Homo sapiens: one gene and its partners. The protein of the gene in region 2 purifies or fractionates together with the protein of the main gene of each other region. This does not show direct contact. Each region holds a gene or a part of one and is shown on either strand. Other genes may lie near its edges. The genes, in order: MAN2B2, FUCA2 and RAB21.

Region 1 (3,656 bases), on a different chromosome or scaffold from region 2:
TGAGCCGGGAGCGGATTGCATACGTGTAATTCTGTGCTGTCATGTTCCTGGAGGAGAAGGGAGCATCAGTAAGTGAAGCTCCAGGAACCTTCTAGATGCTTCCTTTTTGCTTCCCTTCCTTCATGTGGGCAGGGTGGGCAGGGCAGGGTACGCCGAAAGGCAGGGAGCCTTCTTGGGCCATGTGGACAATAGCACCACCCAGGACCCCGAGCGGCTGGGAGCAGCCTGGTTCCCCGACACCGCAGGGCTGCCATGCCGGGCCTGCCTTACGTCTGCTCTGATCATGGAAGAACAGGTGCTCTGTGGGCCCCAGGGTCTGTGGGTCTCTCTCCCAGCTCTGAACTTAGCTCCCAACCAACGTGACACAGCACACGCAAACGCAGCCAGCATGCAGACACCAGAGCAATTCATTTCTTCATCAGACCACGTGTCAACCACGGCCCGGAAGCTGGGGTTCAGAGCAAAGACAGACCCTCATTCACTGAGCTGCCTGCACGCGTGCGCTGACTGTGTGCCGGGCTGTGGGGGTCACCCCAGGGGAAGCACCTGTAGAAGTACTGCCGGATCTCAGTCACAAGCTGTCCCGCCACAATCTCCATTTCCACAGCTTCCCACGCAGGCACCGCGGCCTTGCCCGGTGTGAACAGGTAGTTATCGGAAATGGGGCCCTGTTTCACATCCCCGTTGACGTGGTACTCCAGGAATTCCTGGGTCACGCGCACCGTTCGGTTACTCTGTCTGCAGAGGCAGGAGAGAGAAGATGTCATTCTCATCCTGCACAAGGTCTTACAGACACCGGCTGGCAAGCCTCTCTCTCCAGATGCCATCTGAGTGGCCTGCGTAGCACTCACGAGGCCATGTGACTCAGCTCATCTAGAAGCCCTGAGACCCCACCCACAGCCAGTGTGGCCTTAGACTCCATGCTGTCCCAGAATGGGTCACAAACGAGGAGACGGACAGAGCCTGCAGACAGGAACCGTGAGCCGTCAGCAGAGGGCACCCCCAAGAGATGGAACTGGCTCACCCAGGCTGTGGTCTGCAAGCGAAACCAGTGCAGGAACGGGCTTTTGTCATGCTGACTCTGAGCTGTCCAGCAGGACACCCATGTGTACAGACCCCATGTCATGGGCCAGAGCCTTCACTGACTTCACCTGGTTAAATTCTCCCAACCCCCAAAGGCAGGGACTGTTAACCCATCCCACTCCCGAGGCATCCGAGGCTGGAAGTTGTGACATCATGTACCCAAGATCACACATCTAGGAAGTGTGCAAGCCAGAACTCAAATTCAGCCCCGACTTTAAATTCTGTGCTCCCTCCCTTCTATTAGGATGTTTGTGTTAGGACAGAGGATGGGAGAAGAGCAGGAGGGGGTCAAGTATTTTAATTGTAAAATGCAATATTTGGCCTAACCAAGTGCACAAGTGATGTATTTGTATCTGAGTCTGGCCTGGCTGTGGGCGGACAATGAGGTGGATGGCCTCTGCACCCACTTCTCTGTGGGATTGTGGTGAGGGTGGGGAAGGAAAGGGAGGCAGGCTGTGGAGGGTTCTACTGAGTGCTGGTGGAGGAGGAGAAAGAAAAGAATTGAGGCCTCTGGCCCTGGACCCCTTCCCCGCACGATCCTTTTAAAAAGCTCCCCCAGGGGCCATCAAAAGAGTAAAAAGACAAGCCATGGAATGGGAGGAGGGATTTGCAAATCATAAATCTGACAAGGGACTTGTAGCTAGAATATATAAAGAACTCTTACAACTCAATAATAAAAGACAAGCCAATTTAAAAATAGGTAAAGGATCTAAAGACACATCTCACCACAGAAGATATGCTAGTGACCAGTAAGTACATGAAGAGATGCTCAACACCATTAGTTAGCAGGGAAATGCAAATCGAAACCATCATGAGATGCCACTTCTCGCCCACGAGAATGGCTATAATTGAAAAGACAGAAAATAACAAGTGTGGGCGAGGATGTGAAGAAATCAGAACCCTCATCTGCTGCTGGGAGGAACAGAAAATGGTGCAGCCGCTTTGGAAAACGGTCGGGCAGTTCCTCAAAGAGTTAAACATAGAGTTAGCTTGTGACTGAGTAATTCTACTCCTAGCTATGTACCCAGGAGAAACGAAAATGTATGTCCACACAAAAACTTGTACATGAATGTTCAGAGCAGCATTATTGATAGTGGCTAAAACGTGGAAACAACCCAAATGTCCATCAACTAAAGAATGGATAAACAAAATATGGTACATACATGCGATGGAATAGTATTCTGCCATGAAAAGGAACGAAGTACTGATACGTGCTACGATACTGATGAACCTTGAAAACATGCTAAGTGGGTTGTGGGTTGGGCATGGTGGCTCAAGCCTGTAATCCCAGCACTTTGGGAAGCTGAGGCAGGTGGATCACTTGAGCTCAGGAGTTTGAGACCAGCCTGGGCAACATGGTGAAACACCATCTCTGCAAAACACAAAAATTAGCTGGGTGTGGTGGTATGCACATGTAATCCCAGCTACTCAAGAGGCTGAGGTGGGAGGATCACTTGAGCCCCAGAGGAGGTTGAGGCTGCAGTGAGCCATGATTGTGCCACTGCACTCCAGCCTAGATTACAGAGTGAGACTCTCTCAATCAATCAATCAATCAATAAAAAGGGGGAAAAATATGTGAAGTGAAAGAAGTGAGTTGCAAAAGGACCACATATTGTATGAACAGGTAAATCCATATAGACAGAAATAGTCTAGGATTGCCAGGGCCCGTGGGGGAGTGATTGCTCAACAGCATGAAGTTTCTTTCTGGAGTAATGAAAACGTTCTAAAATTGATTGTGGTGATGGCTGCACAACTCTGTGAATGCACCAGAAACCACTGAATTGCCCACTTTAAATGGGTGAATTGTGTGTTATGTGAAGTGCATCTCAGTCAAGCTGTTACATAAGGAACAGAAGCGCTCCCTTCAACCCACACTGCCCTGGGGTTGGTGTCTGCACCCTTGGCTTCCCACCCCAGGCCTCTGCACAGGCTGTCTCCTTCCTATGGAGCAACCTCCCCTATGCCCTTCGAGGCCTGGGGCCTGGCCCCAGGTGTCGTCTCCCGATGGCCCCTACTCTGAATACCAACAGCTCCTCCTTTCTGCTCAGGTGACAGGCACTGGTTTTGCAAGGCTTACCCCTGGTGGGGTTTTGGGAGCCCAATAAGAACTCCTTTGTCCTCACTGGAGTTCAAAACAAGAGAGACAGACAGGGCCACAAACGGGACAGGACAGCCTGAGCTCCAGTGCTGGAAATGCCGGGTGGGACCCTGGCTTAGGCATGTGGGGTCCGTGGGCTGCCCTAAGGGGCATGTACAGAGGGGGCATGGGGCCTGAGTGAGGAACGGACAGGGCACATTCTGCCTCTCCTGGCCTAACCTGGCAGGCTTGGACCATGCTGGGGTTTCTCCCATTTCTGCAGCTCCTCTGCCCAACTCCCCCCTTGCCAGCCACCCATGCTGGCTGCTGTCACCCCTGCACCTGCCCCACTTTCCCTCAGGAGCCACTGGGGAAAGATGAGGACAGACCTGACTGGGGCCCCATTCCCAGAGAAGTCCTGGAGCTCTGTGGGCAGGGAGCTGCTGACAGTGACCTTGAGCTGAGCTCCCCTGATACCCACCTCAGTACAAATGCC
Region 2 (3,656 bases):
AATTTACCGAACTGGTTAAACAGTAATCTCCGTTTTAGACTAACCATTCAGCATTTTTCATTGGTCTGAACAGCTTACAATTTTTCTAAGAGCTGAGTACTTTCAGCCAAAATTTGTCCACTACTGGGAGATACCTAGAAATGATGTAAGCTCAATCTGATAAACAATAAATGTTTCAAAACATGCAAATTCTTCCCCTTCTCTTTATATTAGAGTAAGCAAAGTTTGGAAAGTGCTTTGTATATGTAGGAATTCATCCAATTTCTCTTTTTATCCTACTCTTCTTTATATGTCTGATAAATTTTAAATCTCTTCCTTTATAAAAGAGTACTTGGTAACAAGAATGACTTACCACACATCTGGGGTGACAGTGTCATTCTGGGATCGCCAGGTATGGGTTTCATAAATAGCTTCTCCATTGACTTTTAGCCAGGACCCCATTTGCCTCAGTCGCTCCTCAAAAACTACAGAAATGGTGCCATCTAGTGTGGGCCCAATATTCATCAAAAGATTTCCTCCACATGAAACTGTCTCTACAAGTTGCTAAAAAATTAAGAATAATGTTTTTAGATAAATAAAATAATTCCATCTTTAATGTGCTAATATGTTGCATTTATATATTTATACATGTATATATAGTCACTGCCTAGAAGAACAAACACAGGATAGAACAATGTCCTATATTTATAGGCCATTGAGCCATAGAAGAAATAATTCCTACATGACCACACTATTAAGAATATTATGTTAATAGCCACCAGACATTTCACTGTACCTTCACCAATTCTTCAATTGTAAGATAGTCAGAGATTCCAGCTTCCCTCCTATAGCCCCAGGACAGTTTGTCTATTGTCATGCAGTTTTCCCATTTATGTGGCAAAAGATGTCCTGGGTTATAACGATCACTGCAGGTATAGAAGCCACCATGCTTACAGATGCTACCAGCTCCCCAACGATCATTGGTGACTACTGTGCCCCGAACTGGGCTGAAATGAAACATACAATTTTTTAAAACAAAAGGTATAAGCTTTTTATACAAAAAGAAATGTCACTGAAAAGACATGTAATTGAAATACAATTCTGAAAAGGGACCATGGCATAGTACAGTGGAAAGCCCATGGTTTTGAAGTCAAACAGACCTGAGTTGATTGGAGTTCTGGCTTTGTCACTTTCTAGCTCCCAGACCTAGAGCAAATTACCTGACTCCTCTGAATAATGAATTTCCTCATCTATGATTAGAACAAAAATAAGTTATGTAAAACATTAGCCTGGTACCCAGCACATATAGCACTCATAAGAGTATTATATGAATATTTTAAGCTCCCTTCCATATTGTAAATGGTAGCCAAAACTGAATTTATACCCAAGACACTTTTCTTTTCAATGATTCAATGATCTCATACATGTAGTCTAGCCTTTCTTTTTCTCTTACCATTGTGCCTAATATTGAAAAATCTCAGAAAATTTGACTGTTGATATCATGTGAAATATCCCCACAATATTGCTTATCATAGCAGGTGGCATATTTAAGAGGGAAATACACGCCACATAGAGGGAACAGTTTTGAGTCACAAATTGAAGTGATGGCTCCCAGTTTTTTCCCTTGGAAGGAGTACCTGGACACACTGCTGTTTTAAGTATCAAGAGTTCTTCAGAATATTTGTATTTGTGCCCTTTGTGGGCCCAGGAAGTGCAAGCAGAAGGTTGCCTGACTTCGTAGCACAATACCCAGTGCTTTCTAGTGTACATGCAAATTTGGTCCATATAGTTTAAGCCTAATGGAGGAGTTTAATCAGAACTCCCTGTTCTAATAGGGCAGCCTTGAACATACCAGGAAGCAATAGGAAAAAACTGGAGAAAGTGAAAAGGCTGCGATGAAGGAAAAGAGGAGACAAACAAGGGTGACATTGGCTGGGCAGCAAAGATGACCAAAAGGTAAGAGGATAAAAAGAAGCAGTCTGCGGGATTCAGAAGCAAATAGTCAGAAATAGTGATGAAGAAACAGAGTTGTCCCAGAATAGAGGCCATAAAGGACCAGGGTAGGAGAGAAAAAGGGGGGACCCACAAAATTAACACCTTCAAAGTTCTTGATCCTGTGATTTTTAGTCTGATCTCAAAATCAGACCATTGAGTTGGATTTTACTCCTGATTTATTTACCCTTGATTATGTTGAGTAAATAGTGATATATCTAATAAGTATTATTTACAATGATTTTCTCCCCCCATACCACCAATGACTTAAAATGAAATATTTCAAGAGGTGAAGGAATTAAAATGTTAGAAATATATTAGGAATATGGAGGGTAACTGCAGCAATCTCATAGCATACACACCTTTCATTATATAACCAGGCCAAGAAGCCTGTGCTGTTCCAGTATTGATCCGGTGCTCCTCCGTCACCATCCGACCACAGAACCTCAGGCTGATAGTTGTTCACTAACTCATAGAGCTCTGGCAATGTCTTAGAAACTGGAAATTGCCGCTTATGGAATGAACTGGATTCATCCTCAAGGAAGAGCGGATGAAACCATTCAAAAAGGGAATAGTACAGTCCAAAACGCAGGTCAGTTCTGTTCCTAATGGCTACCTCAAGTTCCTTGACAATGTCCCTCTTGGGCCCCTCATCTATGGCATTCCAGTTCCACGAATATTCTGACCCCCACAAGGTAAAGCCTAGAAAATTATAGTGAAAACCCTTGTAAGCATGTCAACTTTATTTTAGTAAATTTCAACCCACACAAATGCCCAAACAAATCACATAGTACATGCGATATATAAATACCTGCTCCTACAAATGACTGTTTTATGGCCATTTTTTCATAGCATATATTGTGCTTTTATATGAGAAGTGAGAATTTAAACAAGGTGAGACAGGTTTTTAAAAGCAACTTTCAGGGTATATCACTGTACGGTCTGATCTATCTCCAGTATTTTCCCTCTTAGATTTTAAGGTCCTTAAGGGATTGCATCATGTCTGCAGTGCTCCCTGCTATGTCTCCAGCCAACTGCTAGCACAAGGTATAAACAATCAACAATAGCAGCTCACAACTAAGATGGGAACATATACATGTACCATGCTAAATGATGACTACCACTATTTATTATGAAGATCCTGAGATGCACTCCTGCAAGATTCTTAGTGTCTTCTAAACCAAAGCTTGAAGTCTACTGCTTAGTTTTAGGATTGTTTATTTTATTATAGTGTGATTCTTAGAACACTGGTGATCCACGTATAGCAAATCTCTTTTAGCCTGATTATTTATTTAACCAGAGGGGCAAAAAAAAACCCCTACTATTCCCAATAGTTCTATACTTTAAAATATACTCACCACGTGTAATCTCATCCTACTATAAAATCATAAGCTTGGATGTTCCTCTTTAATAAAATTACCCAAAAGTGAATAGTCTACCAACTACATAGATAAGAAAAACAATGTATACCTTTATACAAACACTTAGAAGTGGTTCGTTTTTAAGAGGAATTTGTATTTAGATTACTGATTGTTCCATATAAAAATGTTAGAAGAGATATATAAACTGAAATACTTAAAACATAATAAATATGAAAGCCTCAAAAATTTCATCAGTGCCTAGAGACTTAAATACATTGTTACTATTCCACTAAAATCTAAAAGAATCTTTGAGAATAGACATTT
Region 3 (3,656 bases), on a different chromosome or scaffold from region 2:
AATGCCAATTCTCTGGTCACAAACTCCACTAAGTTTAGCACTTAAGGTCTCTGCAGTGTTATAAACGTAATTTAAAATACTGTTAATTCTATAATTCCATTGGTAAAATAATGTGACTTGGAATATGGCAGTCTTCATGTTGAGGGCAATGATCCACAGTTTTGTTCTGTCTTTTAATTTCTTAGGCGTGAACAGTTATCCAGAAGAACAGCACCCTCCACCACTGGTCTGGGCTTGAGGTTCATCATCAATAATCTGTACACCTCGCCTTGCAGTTCCCGGCTGACTAGAGCCATTGCCTTTTGCTCTCTCATCCACTTGTGCTGTTTCTATCATCCCTAAGACAGAGAGAAAGCAAACATTATTAGGACCACAATATTTGTGTTTTCTCTTTCTAAAATTTCAGTATAACACTATGATAGCTATTTCTGACTTTCGACCAACAAAGAAACTAAATATAATGAACATTGGGTCAGCTCACTAAAACAGCTTCACCTGCATGTTTTAAAAAACTAGTGTCAAAAACTAGTATCAAGTAGTAAGCTTATTTATCCAGTGGTATAATGGCCACAGTGATATCAATAAAGAAAAAAATTTTTTTGCTCTGAACAATTGCCTGCGTACAAGTATAATCCTTAAGATTTTCCAAACACACTTAGAAATATGTCAAAGAAGTTCAAATTATTCCAAGTAATATTTAGGGGGCAGGATTTATTCTTCAACTAGAAATGTAATACTTTTAAGTAAATGATTCTTTTTATTTTAGTTTTGAGAGACAGGGTCTCGCTTTGATACCCAGGCTGGATGTGCAGTGGTGTGATCATCACTTACTCACTGCAGCCCCTAACTCCTGGGCTCAGTTGATCCTCCTGCCTCAGTCCCTGAGTAGCTGGAATTACAGGTATGCAACACCATGCCTGGCTGAGTTTTTTTTTTTTGCTAGAGATGGGGGTCTCACTATGTTGCCCAGGCTGGTCTCAAACTCCTGGGCTCAAGTGATCCTATGGCCTTGGCCTCATAAAGCACTGGGCTTATAGGTGTGAGCCACTGTCCCTGACCACAGCGATATTTGAAGAATAATGGAGTTTAAGATGAGGGAACTTCGAAGAACACAGCAGAAAGACTCACACCACCTGATTGCAAGAACTAGTATAAAGCTACACTAATCAAAACAGTGAGACAATGATAGGAGAAATAGATCAGTGGAACCAAAAAAACACAGTCCAGAAATAGACCCCGTAGATATGGTCTCTTGATTTTTGACATGGTTGCCAAGGTTATTCAATGAAGAAAGAATATTTTCAAAAAACAGTAGTATTAATAGAACTGGACATCTATTGTAAAAAAAAAAAATCAACCTTAACCCACACCTTAACATCTTATGCAAAAAACAACGAAAAATGAATTATACACTTAAATGTAAGACATGAAACAAAATTTCCAGAAGAAAACACAGGAGAAAAATCTTCATAGGAGAAAATTTTTGTGACTTTGGCTTACACAAAGAGTTCTCATGTAAGACATAAAACATGAATCATAAAAGAAAAATAGATAAACTGGACCTCACTGAAACTTAAAACTGCACTTTAAGAGACACAGGTAAGAAAAATGGGAATACACAACACAGACTGAGAGAAAGTATTTACAAAACACGTATTTGAGAAGATGAAGGAAGAAAAGAGGGTGTCCTTAAAATACAAAAGGGCTCTTAAATTAGAGACTGCTCTTGATTAATGGTTTACAATTTGAGGTATGTGGGACAATCCAACAAGAGGAAATAAGAAAACATTATAAATTCTATATCTACTTATTTTTAACTTTCCAAAATTTCTATTTTTTAGGTATGTTTTAAAATGTACATATTAGTACTTGTACATGTTATATAATTTCTAAATAAACATGTGGAGCATGCAAAAATTGTTTTGAAGATGTGATATTTATAACATTTGTAAGCCACTGACTTAGTGCATTGTTATTTAAAAGCATTATCAGAAGGAAGGAAGGGAGGGAGGGAGGGAGGTAAGGAAGGAGGATATCCTGATGACTAGCATCACCACCACTTGGGTGCTTGTAGAAATGAGGACCTCAATCTATCCCACACCTATTAAATCAAAATATGCATTTAATAAGATCCCCAAGTTGTTATGTACAGCATTGGCTCTTATATTTTAGTGTGCATTGGAATCATATGAAGCGTTTGTTAAAACACAGATTCTGGGCACCATCCCTAGAAATTCTGATTCGGCAGGCTTGGAGAGCCCAAGAATTTGCATTTCTGACATATTTTCAAGTGATATTGATGCTGCTGATCAGGGGACATCACTTACATAATCAATATTTTAGAAGAATTATGAATGACTTGAGGGTTTTATAAAACTAATTTATTCCAAAATGTGTGTGTGTGTGTACACACACACACACATATCAATATTCTTTTCTAGAGAGAAAAACCATGATTTCATCAAATTCTCAAAAGAGTCTAAAGTCCATAAACTCAGATATGCATTTTATTGGTAATATAAGAAATGATTTTCAGAATATATATAAATTTATTTTCCTTTTTCTTTAAAACTATAAACTTTTTAATATGGAAAATTTCAAACATAAAGTAGAAAATACAGCATAATGAAAATCCATCACCCAATTTCATGAATAACCCTAAGCATCCCTACCATTATTTTGAGTCAAATCTCAGACCCATAACTTTATTCCTAAATTATTTTAATGTGTCTTTAAAAGATAAGAACTCCTTTTATAAAGCATAACCACAATACCATAATCACACCTAAAAAATTAATAGTATCTTAATATCATCAAATATCTTGTTTCACAAACACTCTTTTTCACTAGTTTGACAAATCAGTGTCCAAATAAGGTCCATTCATTGCAAGAGGTTGTTACAGGTCTTAAATCTGTTTTAATATGTAAATTCCCCTTCCACTTTTAATACTTATGCATATATTATAATATATATTTAGCCCACACCATACTTATGATTTCATAACCATTAATTACTGCTTGAAACAGGGTTAAAGTAGGTATTTAAGCATTAAAAAAAATAGTTACAGCACTTCAGAAATACTACCAATAGTCAATAGTTTAAAAAGAACCAATTCTTTGAAAAGTAACACTGGTGTAAAATACATACTATTTTTTAAAAAATAAAAACCAAAAACCATTTCTAAACAAACTAAATCTGAATATACCTACTTTTACAAAGGTCAAGAAAGAGTTCCTCAATTCCTTTGTTCTGTTTGGCTGAAGTATGATAATGTTTTGCTCCCACAGATTCTGCATACCTTAAAAAAAAGTAACATCGGTGATTGATGTAAAATATTATTCATGATTTTGTCTTAACTGCTTTTTTATAGTAACAGTTTTAGTGACATATTAATTTACTCAAGTTTAGTGAAATTAAGTTTATATAGCTATTTAAATTCTCTATACATTAAATCAAATTTTAAATAACACAAATATAACAAGCCTCGAAATTTTTATAGATTAATTTGGGACTCAAATACTTCAAAAGTTTTTCTGGCTTACTGCCTATTTGATCATGATAGTTTTGTTTTATATCACTCGTATTTTTCACTGAAGTCAAAAAGGGAAGTAAGGGCTTTATTGCCACAAGCCCAGAAATTACCATGTAAACATGC

The links.
Region 1: the proteins of FUCA2 (region 2) and MAN2B2 purify together in Homo sapiens (affinity purification with mass spectrometry; 2 studies listed by BioGRID and IntAct, with this or other methods). This does not show direct contact.
Region 3: the proteins of FUCA2 (region 2) and RAB21 purify together in Homo sapiens (affinity purification with mass spectrometry; one large-scale study listed by BioGRID and IntAct). This does not show direct contact.

The regions. Positions count from the first base shown.
Region 1 is NC_000004.12:6,606,189-6,609,844, reverse strand, and holds part of MAN2B2 (epididymis-specific alpha-mannosidase isoform 1 precursor), read right to left. Parts: intron 739-3,656; coding exon 547-738; intron 48-546; coding exon 1-47.
Region 2 is NC_000006.12:143,501,580-143,505,235, forward strand, and holds part of FUCA2 (plasma alpha-L-fucosidase precursor), read right to left. Parts: intron 2,674-3,656; coding exon 2,334-2,673; intron 987-2,333; coding exon 776-986; intron 544-775; coding exon 353-543; intron 1-352. UniProt on the Homo sapiens protein: Alpha-L-fucosidase is responsible for hydrolyzing the alpha-1,6-linked fucose joined to the reducing-end N-acetylglucosamine of the carbohydrate moieties of glycoproteins.
Region 3 is NC_000012.12:71,782,213-71,785,868, reverse strand, and holds part of RAB21 (ras-related protein Rab-21), read right to left. Parts: intron 3,300-3,656; coding exon 3,211-3,299; intron 339-3,210; coding exon 196-338; 3' UTR 1-195. UniProt on the Homo sapiens protein: The small GTPases Rab are key regulators of intracellular membrane trafficking, from the formation of transport vesicles to their fusion with membranes.